4 linked regions of the Homo sapiens genome follow. The protein of the gene in region 4 purifies or fractionates together with the protein of the main gene of each other region. This does not show direct contact. Each region holds a gene or a part of one and is shown on either strand. Other genes may lie near its edges. The genes, in order: XPO4, RMND1, TSKU and UXS1.

Evidence for each region.
Region 1: the proteins of UXS1 (region 4) and XPO4 purify together in Homo sapiens (co-immunoprecipitation; 3 studies listed by BioGRID and IntAct, with this or other methods). This does not show direct contact.
Region 2: the proteins of UXS1 (region 4) and RMND1 purify together in Homo sapiens (co-immunoprecipitation; 3 studies listed by BioGRID and IntAct, with this or other methods). This does not show direct contact.
Region 3: the proteins of UXS1 (region 4) and TSKU purify together in Homo sapiens (co-immunoprecipitation; 3 studies listed by BioGRID and IntAct, with this or other methods). This does not show direct contact.

Annotation. Positions count from the first base shown.
Region 1 is NC_000013.11:20,892,524-20,900,363, forward strand, and holds part of XPO4 (exportin-4), read right to left. Parts: intron 1-7,840. UniProt on the Homo sapiens protein: Mediates the nuclear export of proteins (cargos), such as EIF5A, SMAD3 and isoform M2 of PKM (PKM2). In the nucleus binds cooperatively to its cargo and to the GTPase Ran in its active GTP-bound form.
Region 2 is NC_000006.12:151,413,825-151,421,664, forward strand, and holds part of RMND1 (required for meiotic nuclear division protein 1 homolog), read right to left. Parts: intron 7,498-7,840; coding exon 7,421-7,497; intron 3,576-7,420; coding exon 3,455-3,575; intron 3,448-3,454; exon of another isoform or gene 3,257-3,447; intron 1,725-3,256; exon of another isoform or gene 1,594-1,724; intron 1-1,593. UniProt on the Homo sapiens protein: Required for mitochondrial translation, possibly by coordinating the assembly or maintenance of the mitochondrial ribosome.
Region 3 is NC_000011.10:76,792,895-76,799,023, reverse strand, and holds the end of TSKU (tsukushi isoform b precursor), read right to left. Parts: intron 3,416-6,129; coding exon of another isoform or gene 3,408-3,415; coding exon 2,346-3,407; 3' UTR 880-2,345; downstream 1-879. UniProt on the Homo sapiens protein: Contributes to various developmental events and other processes such as wound healing and cholesterol homeostasis through its interactions with multiple signaling pathways.
Region 4 is NC_000002.12:106,120,613-106,128,452, forward strand, and holds part of UXS1 (UDP-glucuronic acid decarboxylase 1), read right to left. Parts: intron 5,068-7,840; coding exon 5,008-5,067; intron 2,480-5,007; coding exon 2,358-2,479; intron 1-2,357. UniProt on the Homo sapiens protein: Catalyzes the NAD-dependent decarboxylation of UDP-glucuronic acid to UDP-xylose. Necessary for the biosynthesis of the core tetrasaccharide in glycosaminoglycan biosynthesis.

The sequences.
Region 1 (7,840 bases), on a different chromosome or scaffold from region 4:
ACTGAGCAACAAGGTGCCAAGCCCTGTACTAGACACACATAATCAAGGAAAAGCAAACAGGGTCCCTGAACAAATATACATTAGAGTCCAGCAAGAGAGACCAACGTTCATTAATCAATCACATAAATAAGGTGTTATAAAAGAACTACCAATAACTTGAGACCACCCTGGGCAATACAGCAAGATTTCGTCTCTACAAAAACATTGTAACATAGCCAGGTGTGGTGGCGTGCACCTGTGGTCCCACCTACTCGGGAGGCTAAAGGGGGAGGATCGCTTCAGCCCAGGAGTTTGAGGCTGCAGTGAGTCATGATCACACCACTGCATTCCAGCTGGGTTTTAGAGTAACTCCAAAAAGTAAAAAATAAAAAAAAAAAAATAAAAGAACTACACTGTTATAAAAGGACAGGTGAATCTCACCTTTCAGGCAGGCTAAGGAAGGCTTCCCTGAGAAACTGACTACTGAGAGAACTGAAGGATGAAGTGACAGGGAAGAAAAGCATTCCAGACAGAAGGACTAGTATATGAGAGGCCCTGTGACAGGACACAGGACACAAGTGGGAAGGGTTGCAAAAAAGCTAGTGTGGCTGATGAAGAGAAAAAGCGACTGGAAAAGAGTCAACAGAAGCTGGAAAGGCAGTAACTTATCCAAAGCCTCACAAGGTGCAAACATTTTTAAAGAAAAATGCTTTATATTTCACAACACTTAATGGCACTTTTCCCCTGCTTTTTGTGAACAAGAGGCCTTACATTTTCATTTTCACTGGGCCCTGCAAATTATGTAGGTAGCCCTGGCTGGACAACAAAGACAGTGGACAGAAACAGTCTTATGGCTCGGATACAAGGCAGAGGCCACCCACTCACTATACTGACCCTTCAGACCCACTAAGAAAGACAAAAAAGATGAGGATATGGAATGAAACACGGTCTCCATGGCCAAGCACGGTGGCTCATGCCTGTAATCCCAGCACTTTGGGAGGCCGAGGTGGGAGGATCACGAGGTCAGGAGTTCGAGACCAGTCTAGCCAACATGGTGAAACTCCCTCACATGGTGAAACCCCGTCTCTACTAAAAATACAAAAATTAGCCGGGCATGGTGGCACGTGCCTGTAATCCCAGGAACACAGGAGGCCAAGTCAGGAGAATTGCTTGAACCTGGGAGGCGGAGGTTGCGGAGGTTGCAATGAGCCTAAACGTGCATTGCGCCACTGCACTCCTGGCTGACAGGGTGAGACTCTGTCTCAAAAAAAAAAAAAAAGAAAGAAACATGGCCTCCTAAATTAGAACCTCCGTAGGTAAGGCAAAGGAAACTGCAGTTTTTTGTTTTGTTTTGTTTTTGAAACAGAGTTCGCTCTTGTTGCCCAGGCTGGAGTGCAATGGCATGATCTTGGCTCACTGCATTCTCCGCCTCCCGGGTTCAAGTGATTCTCCTGCCTCAGCCTCCCGAGTAGCTGGGAATACAGGCATGCGCCACCACACCAGCTAATTTTGTATTTTTAGTAGAGACAGGGTTTCTCCATGTTGGTCAGGCTGGTCTCGAACTCCCAACCTCAGGTGATCTGCCCGCCTCAGCCTCCCAAAGTGCTGGGATTACAGGTGTAAGCCACGGTGTCCAGCCAGAAATCTGCAGTTTTAATAATCACCCTAAGATTGGTTATGCATGTTCTAAACTCTGAAAAACCCTTCTCTAAAATATTGTCAAATTACAATGGACCTAATTTTTCCCATAATTACAAACAGAGAAAGAGTGAATCCCTATCTCTTTTTCAGAATAAAGTTTATTAGTTTTCTATTAGCTCTTTCTCACTCAAAAGACATTTTTCCTTTTATTTATTCACAAGGTTATATTATACTTAGCAGTGATTAAACAAATCTGTGGAAATGGAATGCCCTGCATTTGCATTTATAAGTCTATAAATGCAAAACCACAAACCTAGTCTTAGTCTGAACCATGATACAGCTTTGAACATTCTTCAACATAAAAATAATTGCAGGACATTCAAGGAAGTAGATTTTAAAAGTAGATTTTTTTTTTGGCCGGGTGTGGTGGCTCACGTCTATAATCCCAGCACTTTGGGAGGCCAAGGCAGGTGGATCACCTGAGGGTCAGGAGTTCAAGACCAGCCTGGCCAACATGGTAAAACCCCGTCTCTACTAAAAATACAAAAAATTAGCCAGGCATCATGGCAGGCACCTGTAAATCCCAGCTACTGGGGAGGCTAAGGCAGGAGAATCACTTGAACCCAGGAGGTGTAGGTTGCAGTGAGCCGAGATGGCGCCATTGCACTCCAGCCTGGGCAACAAGAGTGAAACTTCATCTCAAAGAAAAAAAAAAAAAAAGGTAGATTTTTTTAAAACACATGCAACATTCAGGCTGGGTGTGGTATCTCACGCCTGTAATCCCAGCATTCTGGAAGGCCGAGGCGAGCGGATCACCTGAGGTCAGGAGTTTGAGAACAGCCTGGTCAACATGGTAAAATACTGTCTCTACTAAAAACACCAAAATTAGCCAGGCATGGTGGCGTGCACCTGTAGTCCCAGCTACTCTAGAGGCTGAAGCAGGATAATTGCTTGAACCCGGGAGGCAGGGGTGGCAGGGAGCCGAGATTGCGCCACTGCACTCCAGCCTAGGCAACAGAGTGAGACTCCATCTCAAAGAAAAGAAAATAGAAATGCATGCAACATTCAAATTTACTAAAACGGAGTATTAATTTATGGTCTAAATTTTTATATTGTAAAAAATTCAAACTATATTAAAACTATATTAAGCACTCCTCCCATGTGCAATCTCATTCCCTATGCAGCCATTCTTAGAAGTTTAGTATAGGCCAGGCACAGTGGCTCACAGCTGTAATCCTAGCACTTTGGGAGGCTGAAGCTGGCAGATCACCTGTGATCAGAAGTTCAAAACCAGCCTGGCCAACAAGGTGAAACCCTGTCCCTACTACAAACACAAAAATTAGCTGGGTGTGGTGGTGCATGCCTGTAATCCTAGCTACTCGGGAGGCTGAGGAAGGAGAATCACTTGAACCTGAGAGGCAGAAGTTGCAGTGAGCCGAGATCGCACCATTGCACTCCAGCCTGGGTGACAGAGCAAGACTCTGTCTCAAAAAAAAAAAAAGAAGTTTAGTATAAGCCTTCCATTTCCGTTTCTATGCATATACAAATATATACAGAACTTTTTCTAGAAAACAGAAATGGGATCATATATTCTATTCTGCAATTTTTCGTCTTATTTTGAGTATCTTTCCATGTTCATTCAGATCTTCCCATTTAAAAAAAAAGCTATCACATTTTAGATATACCATATTTTTTAAGAGTTCCATAAAATTCCATTATAAAGAATACCAGTATATTAAATCAATTTGGTGTAACTGGACATTTACGTTGTTTCAATCTTCACTACAGCAAAGTACACTACAGTAAACATTCTTTGTGTATAAGCAAGTATTTCCATAAACTGAATAAATGGCCAGAAGTGAAATAGCTGGGGGTCAGCTATATATTGAAGGCTCTTGTATCGAAAACTTGTAGCATACTTCCCTATACCTTTACAATGTGAAATAACATTTTATTCTTAGTTCTGTTTCTAGACTATTCTAACTTTCTATTCTTTTCCTATGCCAATGCTATGTTTCAATTACTTTAGCTTCTGAATACATTGTAATAGTTGCTACATCAAGTCCCCAAACCCTTCACAGACTTCCAGATATATTTTCTAATCAATTAATTTTTCTCCCACCTCAGAAAAGGGTGAGGAGGAAAGAGAGATTTTGATTGACATTATATTCAATTTAGAGATGAATGAGGGAGAAATTGCCACCTTAACCGGATTGACCTTTCAGACCAAGGAGCATAGCCTTCATTTAATTCAGCTCTTTTATATTCTGCAAATAAGCTGTATCATGTTCTTCACAAAAATGGTGCATGTTTCTTATCAGTGCCCTATAATTTATTTCTACAGTTTTTCTTTCTAACAGAATGGGATCTTTTTTCCAATTTTAAGCTGATCACTGCTGATATAAAGGAAATCTTGCAACCCATTTATTTTTCTTACATCTGGTCATCTTTCCAAAGAACTAATGGTTCCAACAGTCTTAGTTATTTTGCTTAAACTTTTTTTCCGAAATGTCATATCACCTGCAAATAATCATTTTTTGGCCTTTCTTTCCAATATCTGCACTTATTCCCATTTTTTGTATTACTGTATCAGTTAGACCCTCCAGAAGGTATTAAATAACAGTTATATTAGGACTCCCGTTTTACTTCTGAGGATATCATCATTTAATACATGGTTTCAGATAACTATTTGTTATCATATTGAGAATTCCCTTCAATTCCTAGTTTATCCAATTGTTTTAATCATAAAATGCTGTTAAATTTTAACAACTGCCTTTTAGGCATCTATGGATGATTTCAAATGCCTTTTTGCATTTCTTCTCTGGATCACTGGCTATGTTCCAATTAGTGTGACACAAGTCCAACTGCAAATACACATTTAATTGAACTGAATTTGAAACATAAATTTCCTATTAATTAGCTTTTTTGAGAAAAAGAATGCTGTGCCAGTTTTCTAATATCTAGTGCCACCGCAGGTACTACAAGACAGGGCTGAAATAAACAAAAATGCATACTTACTATAATGCATCTTTCAAATAAGAAAAGTAGGTTCAATTAATTAAAATTTTCATTTTTATGACGTGTACTGTGGTTACAAAAAAATAAAGGCAGTGTACCTTACACATTGAAGGTCTCAGGAAATATCTACTACATAAATGCTCAAATATTCCTCAAACTCACTGTATTTCCCCAAACTATATTCTCTCAGACTATATTCCCCAAAATATATATCTCCACCTGGGATATTGCTTATCAAACTAGAAAACTCTAATCTATTTTTCATGATTCAGCTTAAGGGTTACCTATTCCAAGAAGCCCTTTCTCAGTCCCTATCTCAGCCTGAGATAGATGTTTGTACCTACTTCTATTATAACTTTACCAACCAACATTTGCTAATATTTTTGCCTTTCTCCACTCCTTGAAAAGAAGGTGCTTCTTCTGTCTCCTCAGCATACACAGCATAGTGTCTAACATGCTGTGTTTCTATATACTGAAGAAATGTTCTAAAACAAATCAATGGCCAGAAATTGGATTCCAGATCCAAACTAGCTACATGACAACAGGCAAATCATTTGCCATCTCTGAATATCAGGTTTTCATATTTATTTATTTATTTATTCTATTTTTTTGAGACAGAGTCCCGCTCTACAGCCCAGGCTGGAGTGCAATGGCACAATCTCTGCAACCTCTGCCTCCTGGGGTCAAGTGATTCTCCTGCCTCAGCCTCCCAAGTAGCTGGGATTACGTTATAGGTATGCACCACCTCGCCCAGATAATTTTTGTATTTTTAGTAGAGTCATGGTTTCGCCATGTTGGCCAGGCTGGTCTCGAACTCCTGACCTCAGGTGATCCACCTACTTTGGCCTCCCAAAGTGCTAGGATTACAGGTGTGAGCCACCATGCCTGGCCAGGTTTTCTCATTTATAAGGTTTAGGAATATCTCATCCTATTTACTTCACAGGACTGATATGAGAATGAAGACAAAAATTTTTCTATAGGACTACAGATGTGCAAGTATTTTAGAAGATATTAACCAGATTCCACTATAATAAAATCTATGAAAACCAGTCATGAATCTCGTTTATTAAAGTTGGATTTACACTCACTAAATCCATCCTGGTTTAAAAACAAATGTATGGGCCGGGTGCGGTGGCTCACGCCTGTTAATCCCAGCACTTTGGGAGACCAAGGTGGGAGGATAACCTGAGGTCAGGAGTTCAAGACTAGCCTGGCCAACGTGTTGAAACCTCATCTCTACTAAAAATACAAAAATTACCCAGGCGTGGTGCCAGGTACCTGCAGTCTCAACTACTTGGGAGGCTGAGGCAGGACAATCACTTGAACCTGGGAGGCAGAGGTTACAGTGAGCTGAGATTGTGCCATTGCACTCCAGCCTGGGCAAGAGTAAGACTGTCTCAAAAGAAAAAGGAAAAAAAAAACCTATGAAAATTACTTTTCTATAATGTATCAGTTAATATGTGTGCTCTGCACTATCTTATATTATTGCTACACACAATCACTAAGGACAATCCAAAACAACCTAATGAAGACAGGGCAACAAAACCAAGCAAATTCAAGACAATAAATAAAGCGCTCTTTGGACTGCAAATGAATGTGGCATCAATACTATAAGAACACTAAACTTTTCAATAATGTTGTCTCTAAAATCAAAACACCTCCTACATTTTAGTATACAAGAGGATGTGCATAGGTCATACACAATTACCATACCATATCATGTAAGAAACTCACCTGGGCACAGTAGCTTACGCCTATAATTCCAGCACTTTAGGAGGCCAAGGCAAGAGTATCACTTGAGCTCAAGACCAGCCTGGGCAACACAGTGAGATCCTCTCTACAAAAAAATATTTTTAAAAAATTACCCATTCAAGGCTGCAGTGAGCCATGATCATGCCACTACACTCCAGCTGGGACAACAGAGACCCTGTCTCAAAAGAAAGGGAGGGGATCGGGGGGACTTAAGTATCAATGCACGGTTGATGTCCATGGGTGGAGGCGGTTCCTGGAACTAACCTCTCATGGACACCGAGGGACAACTGTACTACTTTATCTGGCAGCTTATCCAATAATCTAAATTGATTGAATATAGATGTACCATATTTAGACATTTTCCATCAAGTAATAAAATGTAACATTTATAGTATATGTTGACTAAGAACCAACATGGTTGAGTAAAAAAAGTAAAAAAAAAAAAAAAAGAGTAAAGGTTTTGAAAGGGGAGTCTGGTGATCTCAGCCTGGATCAGTTATATCATGAATTTGCTCTGTGACCTACCTTGGGCAAGTCACTTCTACCTCTTTGAACCTCAGTTTCCCCATCTGTAGCATAGAAGGGAGAATGCTTAGACTTGATTCTTATTTTTCAGTTTCTAGTCTCTCAGAGACGGTGATAAAAGCTCTAGACCCTATTACTAAAAATGTACATTTACACCAAAAAATTTGTTACAATTTCCTTTTGATATTCATCCTAGACTCCCTAAGACTTCTGTACCAAAAGATCTAAGATTCTTCTATGTTCTAAAATTCTATGCTGATTTCCATAAAACAACTATATGAGTTACCTAATGAAAAATTAAGCAAAAATAATTATGAAATACATCACTATTTGCATTTTGAATCTCAAAGCATATTAACAGTTAAAATACAGCAATTTTCCATAAGATATATTCAGACCCACAGATGGATAAATGCTAAGATCACTCTGTTTAAAATATGTAGCTTAATGCTTAATAATTGACGGAGCATTAACAACCTTAATTAGCCAAAGATGAATTAATTTACCTCCTTTCTGGTCCCAGTATCCTACAGCTTAAGAACCACAGACTGGTAACAGACAAACCAGAGTTTGAGTCTCTACCCCTTGCTATGTAAATTTGTGTAGATTACTTAGCATCTACATGTTGGAGTTTCCTTAGCCTGTAAAATGAAAACGAAAGTAACACGCCAGGTGCAGTGGCTCACGCCTGTAATCCAAGCACTTTGGGAGGCCGAGGCAGGTGGATCACGAGGTCAGGAGTTCGAGACCAGCCTGGCCAACATGGTGAAACCCTGTCTCTATTAAAAATACAAAATTAGCTGGGTGTGGTGGTACATACCTGTAGTCCCAGCTACTCGGGAGGCTGAGGCAGGAGAATCGCTTGAACCCGGGAGGCGGAGGTGGCAGTGAGCCAAGATCGTGCCACTGCACTCCAGCCTGGGCA
Region 2 (7,840 bases), on a different chromosome or scaffold from region 4:
TTTCTGTGTCAGCTAAAAGCAACATAGCTTGGTTTTCTTGCCGAGTGGTGATGATCTCTACTGTCCTGTGCTGGAAGACACCTACAGAGGAATAGGTGGTGCCAAGATCAGTGACAACTGCAGATAGCTTTGATGTGGTTTTGCAAGGGGCGGTGTCTAGCTTAGAGGAAAAAAATGTAGACACTAAAGTGGAACATAGCATTCAATAAGCCATGGTAGGTTTTTGAAATTATAAATCATGTATTTTTTATTTTTATTTTTTTGAGACAGGGTCTCACTCTGTCACCTAGACTGGGATGTAGTGGCGTGATCATGGCTCACTGCAGCCTCAAACTCCTGGGCTAAAGCAATCCTCCTGCCTCAACCTCCCAGGGTAGCTGAGACTACAGGCACATGCCATTATACCTGGCTAATTTTTTTAAAAAAAAGGTTAGTAGAAATGAGGTCTCATTGTGTTTCCCAGGCTAATCACTTATTTTTGATGTGATACAAGGTGAATGTGGGGATTGGTAGGAAATATGATTGAAAAACAGAAACAATAGGAAGGACCTTGTATATCAAGCCAGAACACTTGAGGCAATGAGGGAAACTGGAGGTATTAAAATTAGTTGGAGGGAATCAGAAAAGACAATCAGTAGACACTAATATCAAGAGGTATCTGAGGTTAGGTATTATTAGATGATGTTAGAGCAACCATCATAAAAATGATTCAACAAGCAATTCTGAACACATTTGAAACAAACGAAAAAGCAGGAAGTCTCTGCAAAGAAACAGAAGATACAAATAAAAAAACATGGAAATTTTAGAACTGAAAAATATAATAAATGAAATAAACTCAATGTTGGGCAGCAGAACGAATGTAACAGAGGAAGGAATCAATCAACTAGAAGATGAAACAAAGGACATTACCCAATCTTAACAGAGACAAAATATACTGGAAAAGAAGTGAACAGAGCCTCAAAGACCTTGTGAAATGATAATAAAAGATAAAATGTAGATGTCATAGAATTATGGCAGATTTCCGTCAGAAACCATGGAGGTCAGAAGGAAGTGGCATGGCATTTTTCAGGTGCTGAAAGAAAGAAAACTGTCTACCTAGAATCCTATTTCTAGGAAAATATCCTGCAAGAATGAAGAGAAAATTAATACACTCTCAGATGAAGACAAACTAAGAGAATTTGTCTCACTAGACTTACCTTAAAAGAATGGCTAAATAAAGTTCTTGAAAAAAAAAAACAGTAAAAGAAATCTTAGAAGATCAGAAGGAGAAAAGAACAGAAAGAATAAAAACATGGGCACATACAACAGACTTTGCTTTTCTTAGTTTTCTAAATTATGTTTGATGGTTGAAGCAAAAATTATAACATTATCTGATGAAGTTTTCTATGTCTGCAGAAGAATAGTTAAGAAAATTATAAATACGGAAGGGTAAAGGAATATAAAAGAAATAAGAATTCTTTTTTTTTTTCTGCATCCAATCATCCATTAGGGAAATAAAGATTCTATACTTCATTTAATCTGCAAGATGTTGAAATCAGTAGATTGTAATAAGTTATATACGTAAGATGTAATAACCAGAGCAACTACTAAATATCTATGCAACGAGATATATTAAAAAGTAACATCAAAATGAAATACCAAAAAATTGTTTCAGTAACCACAGGAAGACAGGAACTTTGATACAAGCAACAATTTGGATGGATCCAAGTTGAGGGCATTATGCTCTGTGAAAAAAGCCAGTTAAAAAGTCACATACAGATCGAGACCATCCTGGCTAAACACAGTGAAACCCCATCTCTACTAAAAATACAAAAAAAAATTAGCTGGGCTTGGTGGCGGGTGCCTGTAGTCCCACCTACTCAGGAGGCTGAGGCAGGAGAATGGCGTGAACCCGGGAGGCAGAGCTTGCAATGAGCCAAGATTGAGCCACTGCACTCCAGCCTGGGCAACAGAGCAAGACTCCGTCTCAAAAAAAAAAAAAAAAAAAAAGTCACATACTGTATGACTATCTATATAACATCCTCAAAATGACAAAATTATGGAGATGGAGAAGAGATTACTCACTGCCAGGGGTTAGGGACAGTCCGGGTAGGGGGAGGGCAGTGTGACTATACAGGGTAGCATGAGGAAAAGTGATAAAACAGTTTTGTGTCTTTTTGTTTTGTTTTTTTTGAGATGGAGTCTCGCTGCAACGCCCAGGCTGGAGTGCAATGGCATGACCTCAGCTCACTGCAACCTCCACTTCCTGGGTTCAAGCGATTCTGCTGCCTCAGCCTCCCGAGTAGCTGGGACTACAGGCACGCGCCACCACACCCAGCTAATTTTTGTATTTTTAGTAGAGACAGCGTTTTACCATATTGGCCAGGCAGGTCTCGAACTCTTGACCTCAAGTGATCTGCCCACCTCTAGCCTCACAAAGTGCTGGGGTTACAGGCATGAGCCACCGCACCTGGCACAGTTTTGTGTCTTGATCATGTGGTTGCATGGATCTATAGATGTGGCAAAATGTCACAGAACTATGTGCACACATTGTACTAATGTCAATTTTCTGTTTTCTATGCTCTTTCCCCATGTGGTCTACCTCCATCACTACAGCTTTTTTTTTTTTTTTTTTTTTGAGACGGAGTCTCACTCTGTCATCCAGGCTGGAGTGCACTGGCTCGACCTTGGCTCACTGCAACCTCCACCTCCTGGGTTCAAGTGATTCTCCTGCCTCAGCCTCTCGAGTAGCTCGGACTATAGGAGAATGCCACCATGCCTGGCTAATTTTTGTATTTTTAGTAGAGACAGGGTTTCGCCATGTTGGCCAGGCTGGTCTCAAACTCCCAACCTCAGGTGATCCATCCGCCTCAGCCTCCCAAAGTGCTGGGATTTCTTAATACACGTCTCTTTTCCCGACTTTGCTTCTGCCCTTCTAAATGCCTGCATGACGGAGCTAATTGGATATCTTGTTGCTACTCTAATCTCAGCATATCTTAGATTTAGTCTGTCACCTCCCCTCTCTGACCTCTCATTATTGTTTTTCCACCTTTCTACTTGTCACCTCCAGGCAAACATCAGTCATCCTTTATTCTTTCTTCTCCATGGCCTCTTATTACCCATCACTTGATTTGTCTTACATGATTCTTTCTTAAATTTATTTCTATTCTCACTGTCACCATGACAGATCAGAAGCAGTCATGAACTCTTGCTTGAAACTTGACAAGAACTTACTGATGGACCATTAGGCTTCCAAACTCTCATCTTATTCACCAACCTTATCTAGTCTGTAGAGCTAATATCAGAAGATCCTTTGACACAAAAAATTGAAGTGACTGTACAGAGGACAAGAAGGGGAAATATAAAGAGATTTGAATGGAAGTCAAACAAGATATTTCTCTGCAAGCAGTTAAACATATTCAACTTATAGGCGACAACGTGTCTTTTTCTCTCATTAGAAGTGCAAAATACGTACCTTAACTCTTCGGCCAATGCTAAGGAATTGACACGTTTTATCGTAAAGTCCTTCCAGGTTTTCTCTGTCCCAGTAGAAATCAGGAGTAATCAGGAAGTCTGAACTCAAGTTTATACGGTGCCTTTAAAAAGGAAAATTATAACTTTTTATTTATCTTGAATTAAAAATCATTGTTTCTATTGTATTTAATATTTACATAGTGCTTTATGAAAACTTTTTTTTTTTTGGTAAGAGAGAGGGTCTTGCTATGTTACCCGGGATGGAGTGCAGTGGTGTGATCACAACTCACTGCAAACTGAACTCCTGGGCTCAAGCTGTTCTCCTGCCTCAGCCTCCCATGTAGCTGGAACTACAGGCATGTGGCATTGCATGTGGCTGAAAACATTTGTTAATGCTGACCTTTGCAAAATACTGCCAACAAACATGTAAATAAAATTTACAAATGAGTTTCAAACTTCTGAACCAAATTAATTCAATCTTTAATACCAACATTATTTATGAAGTACACAGAAAAAAACTCATTTTGTTTTCAATTTTTTTTTTTTTTTTGAGACAGAGTCACTCTTGTCACCCAGGCTGGAGTACAATGGCATGATCTCAGCTCACTGCAACCTCTGCCTCCCAGATTTAAGCAATTCTCCTGCCTCAGCCTCCCAAGTAGCTGGGATTACAGGTGCCTACCATCACACCTGGCTAATTTTTTGTATTTTTAGTAAAGGGTTTTACCAAGTTGGCCAGGCTGGTCTCGAACTCCTGACCTCACGTGATCTGCCTACCTCAGCCTCCCAAAGTGCTGGGATTACAGGTGTGAGCCACCATTCCCAGCCTAAACTTTTTTTATTAAAAATTTTAGGGCCAGGCATGGTGGTTCATGCCTGTAATCCCAGCACTTTGGAAGGCCAAGGCGGGCAGATTGCTCGAGTCTGTGAGTTCAAGACCAACCTGGACAGCACAGCGAAACCCTATCTCTACAAAAAATACAAGAACTAGCCAGGTGTGGTGGTGTATGCCTGTAGTCCCAGCTACTTGGGAGGCTGAGGTGGGAGGATCATGTGAACCTCGGAGGCAGAGGCTGCAGTGAGCCAAGACTGTGACACTGTACTCCAGCCTAGGCAACATAGTGAGACCCCATCTCAAATAAAAAAAAAATTTAATATGTCCACACTTTTTTGTTTTTTATTTAAAAAATTTTTTTAGAGATAATGTCTTCATATGTCACCCAGTTTGGGGTGCAGTGACACAATCATAGCTTACCGCAGCCTCAAACTCCTGGGCTCAAGTGATCTTCCTGCCTCAGCCTCCTGAGCAGATCAAGATATAAACAGGTAAAAATTGATAAATCTTAACTCTTATTCTTATCTGTATCTTTCCCTATCAGTAATCCCTTCTAGTTTCCGCTGTATCCTTCCAGTGTTTATGCAAACACTAGACAAGCAAGCATAAACATACACACTCTCTCTCTTAATTTCTACATTTTAATATAAGAAGTCTGTGCTTACTTTTTTTTCTGAGACAGAGTTTTGTTCTTGTTGCCCAGGCTGGAGTGTATTGGCGCGATCTTGGCTCACCACAACCTCCACCTCTTGGGTTCAAGCAATTCTCCTGCCTCAGCCTCCCGAGTAGCTAGGATTACAGGCATGTGCCACCACGCCCGGCTAATTTTGTATTTTTAGTAAAGATGGGGTTTCTCCATGTTGGTCAGGCTGGTCTTGAACTCCTGACCTCAGATGATCCACTGGCCTCGGCCTCCCAAAGTGTTGGGATTACAGATGTGAGCCACCGTGCCCAGCCTTTTTCTTTTTTGAGACAGAATCTTGCTCTGTCGCCCAGGCTGGAGTGCAGTGGCATGATCCTGGCTCCACTGCAACCTTCGCCTCCTGGGTTCAACCAATTCTCATGCCTCAGCCTCCCAAGAAGCTGGGATTACAGGCGCACACCACCATTCCTGGCTAATTTTTGTATTTTTGGTAGAGATGGGGTTTCATCATGTTAGCCAGGCTGGTCTCGAGCTCCCAGCCTCAAGCAATCCACCTGTCTCAGCCTCCCAAAGTGCTGGCATTACAGGTGTGAGCCACCGTGCCTGGCCTTACACTTAGATGTTTAACTAAATAAAAATCTAAGTTATGAAAGTACACATAAACTGATGTGGTGGCTCACACCTGTAATCCCAGCACTTTGGGAGGCCTAGGGAGGAGGATTGCTTGAGCAAGGGTTTGAGACCCTGTCTCTACAAATTATTTTTAAAATTAGCTGGGTGTGGTGGAGCACTCCTGTGGTCCCAGCTACCCAGGAGGGTGAGGCAGGAGGAATCCCTGAGCCCAGGAGATCAAGGCTTTGGTGAGCTATGATCATGCCACTGCACTCTAGTCTGGGTGACAAGCAAGACCCTGTTTAAAAAAAAAAAAAAAAAAAGTAACACATACATACCTGTTCACGATTAAAAAAAAAAGGAAAATATCCTAGAGAAGGATTCAGAAAAATGGTAGGCTCTCTTATGCTACCACACTACTTAAATCCTTTATTCTCCCCAAGGACAGGCCTGTAGAGACACTTTGCTGTGTACTTCCAGATCTTTCTGTATTCATACATGCATGTGTGTGCAAGCAAACACATGTACATGTGTATGCATATAAAGATAAACATGAATATTTTTATTTGCTTACACAAATGGGATCATACCCTATATAAATTTAGATTTAGTTTTTTAATCTAATATTATCTGCCATGTTTATTTTCACAGATGTATCACATTCCTTATATTAACAAATAAGCATTTTTATTGTACAGGTAAGGAAACAGGATAGTAAAAGTAAGCCTTTATAGAAACTATTCACAAACCTACGTATATTTAGTCCTAACTATTCAGTTTGGATATTATAATTCACTACATCAATTTCTGCTTGCATGACCAAGAGAACAGGAGAGAAGAATCTCTCTACCCTACTTCTCAGAGAATTTGAGGCTTCAGATATGCTGCAGGATGCTCCTGATGGATGGGTTTTTAAGTTTTGTTGGTACCCTGAACTATAGGTCCTGAGCTATGAGAGATACACAGACAATGAAACACTGTATCACTTCTCTCCAGGCAGAGCATCTAAGGAGAATATGGAAAAACAAGTCTTAGGTGAACATTTGCAGTGAGCTCTGGTAACTCATTCCACATGCTAGAAGGGATAAACTGGACAATGCTGCCTGTGAGAAAAACACCAACATCCGGGATGTTTCATTCCGTAAATCCTGGGACAACTACAAGAATAATAAAAGCTGAAAACCTTTCCAGATACTTATTTAAAATGATTCATCAGTTTTTAGACATAGTTATTCCCATTTTAACATCTCGAGGCATCTTAAAATTAATGGTGTCTGACAGGTGGCACTTGAGACTTACTTGTCTTTGCCTTAAATAATTTATTTTCTTATGCTTTCCTTTTCATATATGCCCAAGAGGGAATGTGATATAATTTATATCCAGCTAAGATTAAAAGATATTTCAGTAAGTGTAAAATTTTAATCCTCTGATAAAAAAAGTATTGTCATAGTTTAACTGGCAGCAGTTTTTCTCTCCAGTGGCATCTTGGTGTCTCAGATTCAAAGAAACTTTTCTGTAGCAATTAAGCCTATTTAGCATTATGATGCAGTGATATATTTTTACAGAGAATTCCCATTAACCAAATTCAGGAATATGTCTTTCTACCTTCAAAGAACACCTACTGTGCTCCTTAATGTGGGTTTAATGTAGATGAATCGTGATCTCTTTTGCACATGCGTGATTTCTTTCAGTACAGTCTTAACACAGCCCAACTACTTCTAATGGGTAAGAGTTCTCCCTGCTTATAATCAATGAAATGAAAACAGCTACAGTTCCCATAAACGTGTAAATGTTTGCTCTTCACCACAGAACTATGGGAATGTTTTCTTGAGATTGTTAAATATATGAAATATTTTATTTAGAGAGAAAACTTTTACCTTAGAGCAAAGAGTTCACCGATTTTCTGCATAACTTCTTCATGAGATAGTTTCACTTTCTTCCCAGCTTTTAAAGCCTAGTTGAGAGGGAATCGGAAAAACCAAAAAACCATGTATCTCTCTTTCTAATAAGCATTAGGTCAACAGGGCAAAATCTGAAGTGGCATAATTTGGATCCTATGTAAATATTTTTTAGGATGGCTGTCTCCCAGATTAATGTCTTAACTCACCTTGAAATTTCATAATTTTATTAGGTAGAAATTGTATATTCTCTTTTTTCATTTCCCTTCTCATCAGCATTTTCAATGATATATACATTCCTAATCTCTTAGTAGAAAAGCAGGGCCTCCTTTCCGAAGTATAATTAGATTACTCTTTCACAATAAAGACACAGTTAATTACAATATGATGATTTTTAAT
Region 3 (6,129 bases), on a different chromosome or scaffold from region 4:
TTGGGTGAAAGTACCGTGATCCCTACCTCCATCTGAATCCTCTCCTGTCCCAGGAAATGTAGGGGAAGTGGAGAACAAACAGGAGGACTGTGGGGGCCCGGGGTCTCACCCTGACCTCCCTCTCCTCCACACCGCCCGGCGCCAAGCCTCAGCTCTTTCCTACCTTGACCGCTGGGTGCCAGCCTCGGACCCAGGGCCTCAAGCTGATACTTCTCCCTGGGGAGGCCTGATTACAAGATGGGCAAGCTCCCACCAGTGCATATGGCCTGAATGTTCTGGGCACAGAGTAGGGATCAGGAAAAACCTGTCATTGGTGATGATGGTAGACATTCCCTGTAGACTGGCCAGTTAGAAGGAAGAACTTGGTGACAGCAGAGCCACCCAGATGAGCTCCAAGTGTGATCTCTGTCAGTGGAAGTGTGCAAACAGGAGCTGGGGTACCATAGCAGCTGAAGCACCAAGGAAGAACAAAATACTGTTGCAGTTCAGAGGAGGGAGGTGGAAGGGGCCAAGGAAGCTTCTGCGGGCGGGCAAGAACTAGGTCTACTGGATAGGAAGGAGGTTGAGAGACAGGGGTGAGGGCAAGGGCAAGGTCCCACAGTAACGCCTGAGCAAGAGAACAGGTGTGCAAGGGCCTGCATGCTCATGGCTATGGCTGGAGCTGGGGTGGCAGGAACAGTGGGGTAGGGCCACGGGAGATGAGAGGTGAACAGGGTGCAGGAACTCCCTCCTTCACGTCACCTTACTCCCCAAATCCTGAGATTATCAGGCTTTTCAGGGAGAACAAGCTGCCCAGGGCAGGGCCTAACCTGATTCATCTTTGTGGCCCCAGAGCCCAGCCCAGGGATTGCCAGTGGACACTGGCTGAGTAAAGCAAAGAACTTTTTATAGTGTTTATTAAATCAAGGACCGGTTAGATAGATGATGGGCTAGGCAGGTGGGGGAAGACAGAGCTCACTGCCCTGTGGGGTCTCTGTGGGGCCAGCCCCTGATGCCCATGTGGCCACTGATGCCCAGCTTCCCCCAACACCCCAACACAGGCCCAGGACAATATTACAAAAGTGAACAAATGCAACCTTTTTCTGCTTTTACAAATGACATGTCTCCATCCCCGGCCAGCAGGGGTAGGGGAGGCCGGTTGAAAGTGACACTCCGTTAAAAAGGCAACAACTTTTATAAAATGAAGACTAAGGAAACAGCCCAGGGTTCGGAAGCTGAGATGCTACCCTGGGGGTAGAGCATAGACATGGGTCGGGCAGACCTTGTCTCCTTTCACGGCATTCCTGGGAGGGTAAGAAGGGCTGTCGTGCTCAGGGCCAGTGGGGACTGAATCCAGGAGGCCCCTTGGAGATCCCAGCCAGATGAGGCTCCAGAACTGCAGCAACTCCTTGGGGCAGCATCTAGAGGATGCTCAGGGGAAAATGGGTAGGTTTCCAGTCTGGATGCTGGGGGACCCCAACCCAGGGTGAGAAACTGGCTAGGCTGGAACCAATGTGCCCTAAGCTTCCAGAGGCTCCGAAGGGCAGAGTGACTTAGCCCATGCCGCACAGCTGGTCAGAGGCCCAGAGTCCCACTTGTGAGGCTCTTGCCTGTCCTGCTGCTGCTACTCCTGTGCTAATGGGGAACAGGCAAGGGCAGCAAGGGGAGCCCAGGCGGGGAGGGTGGGGCTTATTAGAGGAGACAAGAAAGTGCATTGGGTCCGGGCTGGGAGGCAGGAGGCTGTGCTCCAGTCATGCCACTGCCCGCAGGAACTTAGATTAGCCTTTTTCCTTCTCAAGGCCTCAGTTTCCCCATCTGTCACATGAGAAGGGTGGACTTGATTCTTTGCAATTCCTTCTACCATTAAGGTTCTAGGGAAATAGAAAAGGATGAAGCGGGCCTCATGGCCTCATGGCAAAGAAAGGGCTATGTTAGAAAAGAAACTCGCCCCTGAGTGACTGGGCCATGGGCCCAAGGGGACACTCAGCCCAGTGGACCTGAACTCTGCCCTGCAGCAGGGGGTCCCACCCACCCTCTGCCCATTGCGGGTCAGGCCGGCCCAGGCATGAGGGAAGGCACTTGGGGGATAAGTGGGGAAGGGAAGCAGGAGGGGACCCGAGTCTGGTTTGGCATCGAAGTCCCTCTGCTCATGGTTTGGGGAAGCAACGTAGACAAAGGGGTGAGACTTTGCTCCTAGGTGTGGCTCCCAGGTCCAAAGCCTCTCCTAGGCCCACAACTCCTGTGGTGACGCTGCCACATAGGCCTGCGGGCTCCCCACTGGTGTTGGCACATTGAACATAAGTTACTCGGGACCTGAGGCAGCCCAGGACAGCAGTCTGTTATGTGGCCCTGGGCCACACCATTTGTCACAAGATGGTGGGGCCCCTGGCAGCAGAATCCCGGGTGTCTACGCAGTGCAGGGCCACCTTGGGGCTGGAGCCAGGCCTCCGGGGGTAGGTGCCCTCCCGCACCAGGCGCCGGCACCGCACATCCTGGCCCACGCTGACGCTCTGCAGTGCCGGGAGGTGGAGGAGCAGCGCCTCAGGCAGGGGCACCAGGTTGGTGCCCGAAAGGTCCAGCTCCTGCAGGGAGCTCAGGCCTGAAAACACCTCAGCTCCTGCCCAGTTAAGCTTGGGGTTGCCCGACAGGTCCAGGACCTGCAGGCCCGGTAGCTCACGGAAGCCACTGGGCGCCAGCTCAGGGAGCCTCTGCAGGCTGGCCAGAGACAGGTGTGTAAGGCCTCCCAGCCCCGCGAAGGCACCCGGACCAATGACAGCTAGAGGGTTCCCATCCAGGCTCAGGTAGCGCAGGGGCAAGTCTCGGAGGTTGGGCACGGCATGGAGCCGGTTCCAGGCCAGGTTCAGGCTCTGAATGGTGGGCGCAGGCAGGCCGGCCCTCGTGGGGTGGGGCACGAGGCGGTGAATGAGGTTGTGGGAGAGGTCCACGTGTAGTGCCCGGCCCTGACTGTGCGTCGTGAAGGCAGACACTGAGACCTCCCGGAGCTGGTTGTGGCTAAGGTTCACGTCGCTCAGGGGTGAGCTGGTGAAGCTCTCGGCTGGCAGGGCTGTCAGGCCATTGTGGCTGAGGTCAAGCGACTCCAGGTAGCGAAGGCGGGAGAAGGCAGTGGGTGAGATGCTGGTGAGCAGGTTGTGGCTGAGATCCAGGCCAGCCAACGTCGTGTAGCCCGGCCCCGCCAACACCGACTCATTCACCATCTCCAGCCGGTTGGAGGACAGGTCCAAGTGGGCTGTGTCCAGAGGGATGGGCACCGGCATGATGTGGGGGCCCAGGCCGCTACAATCCACCCGAGTCAGGCTGAAGCTGTCGAAAAGGCCGAAGGTCTCCACCTCGCATTGGCACCCGGGGAAGCATGGCCGGGTTGTCTGGGCCCCACTCACGGCCAGCAGCAGCAGCAGGGGCCACGGCATGGTGGGGGCTAGAAAGAGAGCCACAGGTGAGGAATGAATGCACCAGATGGTCTAAAGCCACCACACAGGACATGAGCCCAGTCTAGACACTGTTGGAAGGTGTCACAGACCCCGACCTCCTGGAATGCTTCCTGGAACACTCCCCAGAGTTCCTAGTCCCAGTTCTTCTCTGGCCTCTGCCTCTCCATTTGTATGGTAAGGGGCGTGAGGCCAGGTGGTGAATTTTCAACTAGAAGCAGCAGATCCCTTTCTTAAACAAGAGCAGCAGATGAAGGCGGGCCTGGTCTGGCTGAAGTGAGGGGGACCTGAAGCCCTCGACTTCTGCCCACCATCCCTGCCTAGGGTGTTAGGAAACCCAGTTTGAAACCCACCAGACTAGACGGTTTCTCGGGCTGGCCTCTCCAGCTCTGATGGTCCAGAGTCCCTGGTTTGGTCTAGACCTCGGGCCCCGGGTGAGGGGCTCATCCACAGGGCTGAGGGTAGGGTGTGCCCAGGGTGCCCCACTCTCTGCTGAGCAAGTGTTACACGTCAGGCACTGTTCTGGCTGCCCCACAGCATGGTCGCATCTGACCCTCACAACCACCTTCCAAGGCAGAAAATTCTCTGTTTTACCAAAAGGGAACTGGGCCTTAGGTTAAGACGCTTTTGGACAGCCACACAGCAGAGTGGAGTGGCACTAGAGGGGACACTGACAGAGAAAGCACCTGTGGTCTGGCCGGGGCTGGCCTTCAAGACCAGGACTCCCTCCCTGCAATGGGGCCTGCAGTGACTGCCCCACCGCACCCATACTCCACCTGCCCTGTCCCCCTAGCCTGTCATCCAGGGGCAGGAACTTCCCTTCTCATTGGGCATCCTGGTGTCCAACGTGGGTGTCCAGATTCCCAGATGGGTTTTGGGGACACCTGTCCCAAGCCTCTTTCCCCCTTACTCTGTCCCTTGCCACCAGCAGATTAAGCTACTACACCTCTTTGGTTCTTCCTTTAACCTCGGGCAGGCAGTTAGGCTGCTTCCCCCATTATACAGATGAAGAAACAGAGGCTCAGAGAGGAATAGGGCCTTACCCCAAACTAGTAAAATGCAGGGCAGGAATGGGACCCAGGCCTGGTGTACTCCAATTACTATATTCATATGCGTTGCCTCCAGCAGGACTGGCAGAGTAGCTGGTGGAGAGGCAGGGTGCAGGAGGGGCTTTTCCCACTGACACATGCTGTGGCATGAGCCAGTGTCCCTCCTCAGATCTCAGTTCCCTCTGTACAATTACAGTGGTGGCTGCTACAGATGCCAGGTGCTACATACGTGTTGTCACATCTAATGGTCACACCACCCACTGCTGTTGGATTCAAAGCCTGTGTTCACGTCCACTGTAGCTCCTGGGATGGTGGTGCTCAGTGGTGCCAGCATGAGAAGGAGAGGGTTGGGCAGTGGGAGCTTCTAACTAGACCAATTGGATAGTCTGTCGTCACCCCGGCCCTGCACAGTGGCCCCTCAGCAGCCTGGGAGACAGAAGGCACTAAGCTTCCTTCTAGCCAGGCTCTTCATCTGGGTGGCCCTGCTCTGGGCCCCTGCCCTCCTGCCCATCCCTCCCTCTGGACTTCAGGAAGGAGGTGAGAGAGGGGGAGGAGATGGGCCAGGGACCTGCCCACCTTCCAGACTGGAAGGTGGGTGGGAGGGAGCAGCAGGATTGCATTACCAGCCCTGCATGAAACTTTAAAGGGCTAGCCACTTGATCTGCACTCTGGCTTTGCCCAGGGGCAGGGAAAAGTGGGACTCTTCTCCCCTGCCCCCCTCCCCATGTGGGACCCTCCTCTCCCACCCCTTTCTTTTGTAGAGGCCAATTTCAGGATTAAATCCAGCCCAGGTGCATCCTGGGCATGGTCCCAGCTGAGGCAGGACAGAGTGTTCCAATGTCTGGAACCAAAAGGAAAATATTAAGTTGCTTCAGGCCCCTTTTGTTCCCCTGGGCGAGCTCCTCACCGCAGGGCTCATTACCACCAAAGGCCCCACCTCCCCTGCTAAGCTGATCTGCTCATTCATACCCACCCTTCCTGGGGTTTAAACAAACAGCACAAAGGCCCTGAGATTACCCTTTGATTCCCAGAGGTGATTATACAAGGGGTCCGTGAAATGCCAAATGGCCTCATATGAGCTCCCACTTATGTAACCAGCAGCTCAAAATACGACCCAAATGCTATCCCGCCAGAGGGGACCTCTCGCTGCCCCTCTTTAAGCCTCAGCCTTGTCCTCTGCACTACAGGGTGGCAATTTCTGCCCTGCCCTCTTCACCTAAGTTGATTAACCCTTACTGCCAACTGTGAAGGGCTGTGCACAGGCACAGGGCAGTCATCACCCAGCAGCCAGAAGATACAGAACTGAGGCAATGGTAGTAACAGCCGATGTAAAGAGGCATCTGATGTAAAGGGGCAGGAGTTACCTAGGTAACTGTCTGCAGATGCTCCCAGGGCACTGAACTAGGTTCCTTGCTCAGCCCTGCACAGTAGACACCTCTCCCGGGGTTCCTGCTCTGTGCCGGGCCTATGCCCGGGGCTGGGCATTTGCAGTGGGAAGTGACGACAGTGACAGTCAGGGCCAGTCCTCACTCTCTGCTAGTGCTGGACACACATGCTTTCATTTAGTCCGCACAGTCACTCTGTGAGCCAGCAGTCTCATCCCCATTTTAGAGCAGAGAAACTGAGGATCGGAAAAGGAAGGTGGCTGACCATCT
Region 4 (7,840 bases):
GTTCCACACTCTCCTTCCTAGAAAGTGCTGCACCTGTCTTCCATGGGCCAATTCTCAAGCCTCCCAGTGTGACGGAAAGCAGCAAGCGTGGTTCCCACATGAAGAACCCACGACACCCCTGTGTGAAGTACACTGTGAACCTGGCCACAGAAGTGACTCTTGCAGCCATTCTGCAACTGTCTGTTAGGGACTCCAGGGTGGAAGGCACATGCCTGGTGACTCCATAGAAGGCGTATCATGCCAACGGAGTGACAGGGACACCTTCCCGACAGGGTTCACGTCAGGGATGCTACCTTGAGCAGGAGGAACCAGCTGACCACACGGGGGGCTTCTAACAGGTATATTACTCACAGTTTTCAGGGCAACGCTGCCCACGCCATTAAGCTCCCGAGACCTATGTGAGCAGGAATTTAAATGCTGATGTTCCAGAGTTACTAGGTGCTACCTTCCGGAACCCCCAGGCACAGATGACACGAACGGGTCCAATGTTAGCATTTGTGTGAAATGCAGATCCTGGCTGGAGCCCAGGCCCCTAGAACAGTACCTAGCATACAGTCGGTGCTCAAGAAGTGCTGCTTCTATTATTGCCAAATACCTAGAACAGTACCTAGCATACAGTCGGTGCTCAAGAAGTGCTGCTTCTATTATTGCCAAATACCATAATTATCGCAAGCTTATACTTAAGGCAATAGGTATACCCATAAAGTTATCAACTACATTAGCCGAATAATCATTTAATGAAAACTAAAAGCTCAATCAAAATGTCCCATTTGTCCACCAGCTTTACCTATATAAAAATTCACTAGGTAAGAAATACAATCATAGGACTGAAAGCAAAAGAAAACAGTTGAGAATCATATCACTCCTGGAACACATTCTAGAATAAAATGCAATGATGTACCCCTGACACTCTAGTCAGTACTCCTAAGTACCCATGCACACAGAGTGGTCCTGTGTGTCTGGAAGATCATCTGAAACTTTTGAGTCAAGATATTCTGGGCCCCAAAATGATGAAAGTATGTTCCTACTAAAACTGATCGGCATTTCATAGAGGAAGTGGATAATGTAAGCCAACAGACTAAAGTCGCTTAGAAGGCAATTAGTTCTGCTTCTGGCCAAGAAATAAAGCAGAAAAGTTTAAATATAAACAATAGCATAAGGTTAATTTATGCATCTTTAATGCTGGCATTTCATTAAACACATGATGAGAAAGAGAGTCCTCGACATTCTCTCCTACCCCTCAGAGAGCCTACCTGGCTTTACATTGCCCTGTCCTCTGTGGTACCACGGGAAGGGAAGTCGATTAAACTCTCATCCCAAGGTCAGGAACAGGAGACCTGGCCCTTGGCACATGCTTGACTGGGGCTCTGCCGGGGCCTGAGACAGACAGTCAGGAAAACTCCTGGATGCTGGCCATGCTGATGACACTTGCCCCTCCTACAGAGCACATAGCCGACAGTTCCCCAGGCTCACCTGCAGACTGGGCCCTGGGCCTGACAGCATTGCTCCCAGAAACAGACACTGCATCTACCAACAGCCTGTCCTGGACCAACGTTCCACAGCCATGTTGATTTACCTGCATGTCCCACTATACCAGAGGGCATTTTCATGAGGATGTGAAAATTCAGACCCAAGCCCAAGGACACACTCAGTGAGAACATGAATGGGATATCCTGTGCCCAGGCCTCCACCTTCTCTGCACAGTTCATTGGCTCCTGCACCACCCTGAGATGGGCAGGGCAGGCTTCACAAACCCTGTGTCAGAGATAAGAACTGAGAGAATGACGGCTTAAATCTTGGAGTCACACAGCAGCACAGCCAGTGTGGCAACCTCGGCCTCTTGGTCTGTGAGCAATTTCTGCTATAACATGCAGGTGACCAAATCTGTCACATAAAATATCATCAGCACAACAATGACTAATGAAGAAAGCATGAAATAACAGTAAATAAATATCAATAACAATAAAGAGGTTCAAATTACAGCAATAACGCATCCATTTTTTTACTTAATTGATAGAAAAGTAAAAAAAGAAGATCCATTGATTTGGAGGCTTCAGGAAAAGAGGTACTTCTTAGCTGCTGGTGAGCAACTGGCAATGAAGAAGCATTCTGTTCATAGCCATAAAATAGTATTCCAAACCCAAGAATTGATCTCTAGGAAATCATTTTTAAAATAAGGAGATACATGGAAAAAGCTGTTGATAATACCATTAATTTATAATACTGGGAAACTGAGCTTCCCAAACACCTATCCCCAGACAAAATCAGTCATGGCATTCATTCCTTTACAACACTTTACATCTGAGGTCAGGGTGCTCAGCACGCCTAAACCGCAAGCCTAGACCCTGGTGAAATACCTGCTTCATGTAGGCATAGCACATGGTCTCTGCAACACGTTTGCCTTCATCGTAGCAGGCCCGAGGTCCTATTGGATTCACGTGGCCCCAGTAATCCTCACTTTGAGGGTGGACTTCAGGATCTACGATGGGAGAAAAGTGAGACTGTTTTCATCTTTCCTTTTTCCAGTTCATATCAATAATGCATATTTATGATGCAAAAGGGAACTTCGGAAAGACCCATTTAGAGATGGAGAGATGTATTAAAGAGGCAACCTCAGGTTTCCAGTCCATTCTCTTGAGTTCCAGTAGGATATGATATTAAGCAATGACAATATTTTACTTACAGGGGAAAAAAAAAAAGAAAAAGATCAGGTCTCCCAATTTTAAGTCTTCCCTCTCTTCCGTAAATTGTTCTTAACTTTCAGAGTGCTACACAAATTACAATTAAATAGAATCTATGTGAAGAGATATGTGGTTTTGTTTTATATTTATAAAGTTGATAACTGGAGCAAATCATGTATTTATTGAAAAAAAATGAAAAACGCAGCATCTCTGGAACATGATGACTTTGACATGTGCCATCAGCAGAACAAATCTGGGACCCGTGACAAGTCAACGTGGAGGCTCCTGTAGGGCAGGTGGAGGGACGGGGTGCCCCTGGCAAATGGGTGCCTGTTCTTCTAGCCCTCATTTTACACTCCCAATTCCTGTTTCTCTAGCGTATAAATCAATCACACTTTAAGACATACCAGGGGAAGAGACTATTGGAAGAAAACACGTAACAAATTCTTTTATTCACACAAGTATATTTCTGGAATATGAATATACACCTAATTTATTTAGTACACCAAGAATTTTATACATACTTGAGTACAACTATGATATAAAATGTATAAGTCTTTGCCACGAAATCTGGACAAAAAGATGCATTGTTATAAATTCCCATCTTGTTTATCTTACCCCTGAAGTCTGACTTGGGACTCAGTGGGCCTGAGCAGGTGCAGGGAGGTAAACAGACAGGTATCCTGCCACTTGTCTGCTCAGCCGATCCCTCTGGGTCAGCACAGCCTCCGCAGCAATGCAGAAGTGTGCTGCAAAGAAAGGTCTATGTATCTGCTGCTGTGGTTTAAAATTCCCTTTCAAAGAGCAAACTTCTCACTACTCAGTGAGAGAAAAGTTCTAAGGAAAATACTTCCTGAGAGAAAGGAACCATTGACTTAAATTCACAGAATGTACCAGATGATTGATCCCAGACCTTTTTCTGGGGATCTTTAACAAGAGCTGGGCAAGCTACCCTCCAAAAAAGATGGTCATAAATTTGACAAAGGACAAGAAAGAAAAGGCTGGGTACGCCCATCTGTCCCTGGACTGGCACCGTCTGGACTGAAATGCCCAGGATGCCAAGCTTCTAAATAAGTCCCCTCACAAAATCACCGTGGAATAAAACAGGGACAGCTTACATTGTTAATACAAAAGTAAAGACCTAGAGTCAAAAATAATTTCCAATCATCTCCCCTTTCCAGCATTCTGTGAGGCTAAGACACTAAGCAAATACTCCACAAAAGTTTACTTTGGTTATTCAAGGTCAGAGGAGAGCACCTGGTGACTTCCATAAATTACACTCTCCAATTATTTAGGAAGCCTAAGGAACACAGGCTCCTGTCAGACATGCAGATAATAAATGAGATGAGTAGGGGAAGCAGGATGGCTGTGGGAAAGATGTCACTGTTCCCCTCTGGACAGATACCATACCCCATAGGTAGGGAGGGACACACTCTGCTCTTTTATTAATAACTGCCCAGGACTTCAAAAAAGTAGACAATGAACTACCTTTTCATAGAGATTACAAAGAATATCACTGCATTTAGAAGAATTTCTCTGTTGCTATGATTTTTTTCATTTGGTTTCCTTAATTAAAAAAAAGTCTCTTCTGATTTTACCCTCTTACTTCCTTCTCTTGTCCACAATAATAATGTAAAATAGAAAAATTACATCATACTAAAACCTGGCTTCCGCTGTATCAGCTAAGCAGTTCTCCTGAACCTTGCACACCCAGCTGGTTTGGGGCTGAAGAGAAATCAACACACATTGAAAACACAGCTCCTGGTCCCCACTCCTCAACTCCTTCTCAGGCAGTGAAGGAGAGGAAGGCTGTAGCTTGGTAAAACAAGCTCGTGGGTGTTCTGACACTACCTGCTTAAGGTTCTTCCAGAACTCGTTATACAACAGGGGAGGCAGTCAGCGCATGTCTCTTCTCCCAGCAAGCTTTAAAGGCCAGCCCATGAGCTCTTGGGAGGTCAGGCATGCAGCATGCATGACTCACATAGAAGAATGACATGTGCTAGACAAACAGGTAAAAAGATAGTGTGATTTGTGGGGTGTTTTCAGAGCAGAATGGCAGAAACACTTCTGTGGAATCATAAATGGTGGGTCTTTACTGGCCAGGTGACAGGGTGCAGACCTCCAGTGATGTGTGATCAAACAAGAGAGGCTGTCCCACAAGGAAGAGGAGCTTGGCGACCCGGGAGGCCGACAGGTAGCCTCCTGTGCACAAGAGGAGCATGGGCAGGCTGGGCCTCCTCAGAAAAGAACACTGGACTCTTCTGAGACAGGATGAAAACAGTCCAAGGGCTGGAGTGAACATCTCCTGAGAGAGCCTCCTACTCACCTCCATACACCTCCGATGTGGAGGCCAGGAGCAGACGGGCACCGACTCGTTTTGCCAGCCCTACAGAAAGCAATGACATGATAAAAGAGACTGAATTTACATGTGCAGGCACATTTTTTGCTGGCCAATTTAAGCAATGTTTTAGTATTAAAGACATTTAATTATCTATCCAATTATCTACCCTTACTGCGTCTGCTTTGGCACCAAAATAAACAAAACAAATACAGTAAGAAAAACATAAATGGATTCTCAGAAGGCCAGTATTTTGTTGAATACTTGTCATAAGCAGGGCCAAACGCAGAATCTGTTAGTTTGATAAAGTGTGATTTGAGGAGTTTCGTGAAGACTCCTCTGCCCCCAAATATTACCCCATATTTTACTGGGTAACTTTCCCTTGGTTGGCAGAAGGCAAGGCCCTTTTCTCCTTAACTTCCACAATGGTCAGCTTGCCACTTCCTGAACATCTCCTGGGCTCTTCTAACTGCCCATGCCACCCTGTCTGGGTAACTCTCCACTCATTCTTCTTCCTCCTATGCGGTTCAGCTTACACAGCACCTTTTCCAAAGCAACTGTCACATTCCTCAATTCTGCTCTGAACCCCTTTCCTGGACTGACCACTCACATGTAACTGACCAGAACATCATTATCTATGGTGGTCAAGTAAGTATGGAAAGTCTTCCAAACTCATTCACAGAGTCCCAGTGTACAGTGGTTCACTACAGGATCCAAGAACCCCCCTGACCGTCACTAACCCTGTACTTAAGACAGGCGACATACCCCACCCCCAATCGCCACTACACTAGAGGGGGGCTGTGCTGGACACCCCTCAGCTCTGCCCCCCCACCAACAGCAGGGGCCAACACATGCCCACGAAGCACTGCTAGGAGGGTGAGACGAGCCAGGCACATGCAACCTATGTGCGCTTCTGGGTGAGGCTGGGTGGGGTGGTAGGATTCTAGCGTGCAGCAGCCAGGGGTATCAGTGTGTCAGACAATGTAGTAGCTTCAAAATGAAGGACTCTGAGATCTTTTTCTTCCTGATTAAATTTTTTGAGATATTTGTACATTCAAATTCAATTGTACAAAGTAGTATAGGGACCTTATGTATCTTTTACCCAGATTCCCCCAATGCTAAAATTTGCAAAACTAGATTGTGCCACAATCAGGACATTGACATTGATATGATCAGTGACTATTTCCACTGAAACGGACATTCCATTGATAAAAGTGATAGAGCATTTCCATCTCCACCAGGATCCCTCACAGGGCCCTTCTACAGCCTCTCCTCGCTCCCTCCCACCTGCTGACCCCTGGCAACCACTAACCAATTCTCCATGTCTATAATTGTGTCATTTCAAGGATGATACACAAATGGAACACGGCCTCTTAGGACTGAATTTTTTCATGGAGCATATTTCCCTCAAAATCTATCCAAGCTGCAGTGTGTATCAAAGTTCCTTCCTAATCTATTGCTGTGTAGAATTCCCGGGGATATATGTATGCACTGCCGTTAATCATTCACCTATGATAGGACATTCTGGTTGCTTCTCATTTTTGACCTCTACAAGTAAAGCTGCTATGAACATTCACACAGGTTTTCATGTGAACATAAATTTTCATTTCTCTGGGAGAAATGCCCAAGAATACAATTACTGAGTCTTACAGTAGATGCATACTTAGTTTTTTAAGAAAGCGTCAAACTGTTTTCCAGAGTAACTATACATTTTATATTCCCCCCTACCTGAGTTCTTTCTAGTTTATAGTTTTCTCTGAACTTTGGTCACAAACACACATCACAAATGCAATGTGTTATATTTCAAAAACAACTGAGTTTAAAGATTTTGAAACTAAGACTATTTCTGTAGCACTTTCATGGAATGACTCACGCAGGATCTACAGAGACAACTGTCAGGGAGTGAAGCCAAGGGAGCTATCCTGCTGCTGTAGTGTCTGGGGGTTACGAAAAACTTTCATCAGAGAAAGAACTCTAGCACAGGGTCTGGGAGGTGGGCAAGTTACATAGAGGAAAGGGCCTCACCAGGAAAAAGCCAGGCAAAGTTCATGGCATCTTGTCTCAAGTGCAAGATGGCTAATGACAGCGCCTCTCGGTTCAGAATACAAAGTCCAATTTGGGTTTCTTTCCAGCCTACCAATGGTCTCCCTTTGCCTTTTGTATCTCTCCTGGAAGACTCTTTACCATTCCTGCAAGGCCTCCACATTCAATCTCAGTCATAGCTCAAGCCCTAGCTCGAGTCATTTTTGCCTTTAACTCTAACAGCACTTTGCTGAGGCCTCTCTTTGGGAGACTTTCCTTTCCTACTAGGTATCATCGACGCTTGTGCCCGTTCAGCAGCCCCCAACCCCCATAGGGCACCAAGTGCAGAAGAGCCTGAGGGTAACCCCATCTGAATCTGCCCCAGTGACAGGACCCACGGGCACAGTGACTGCATCCCCCGAGTAGGAAGAATAAACGGAATCTCCCTAAACACCAAGTGCATGATCTTTTCCTCTATGGTCTAGTTCTGGTATGATGGAGGGGGGCGGGACAGAGAGAGTGTAGGAGGGGTAGGCGCTTGTGATGGCAAGAAGAGGGCATCACGCACACCTCTAAGCAGAAGCAGCAGCACCCTGTTCTGTCTGGTGACCAGAGCAGGAGACGGTAACAAAGAAGATAAAGCTCTTTCCAGATAGGAAGAATGAATCATCTTACTCCAAACAACCTGTCCCCTGTGATGGTTCATTTTATGTGTCAACTTAGGCCACAGGATGCCCAGGTATCTGGTTGAACATTATGTCCGGGGGTATCTGTGAAGGTGTTTCCGGAAGAGAGGATA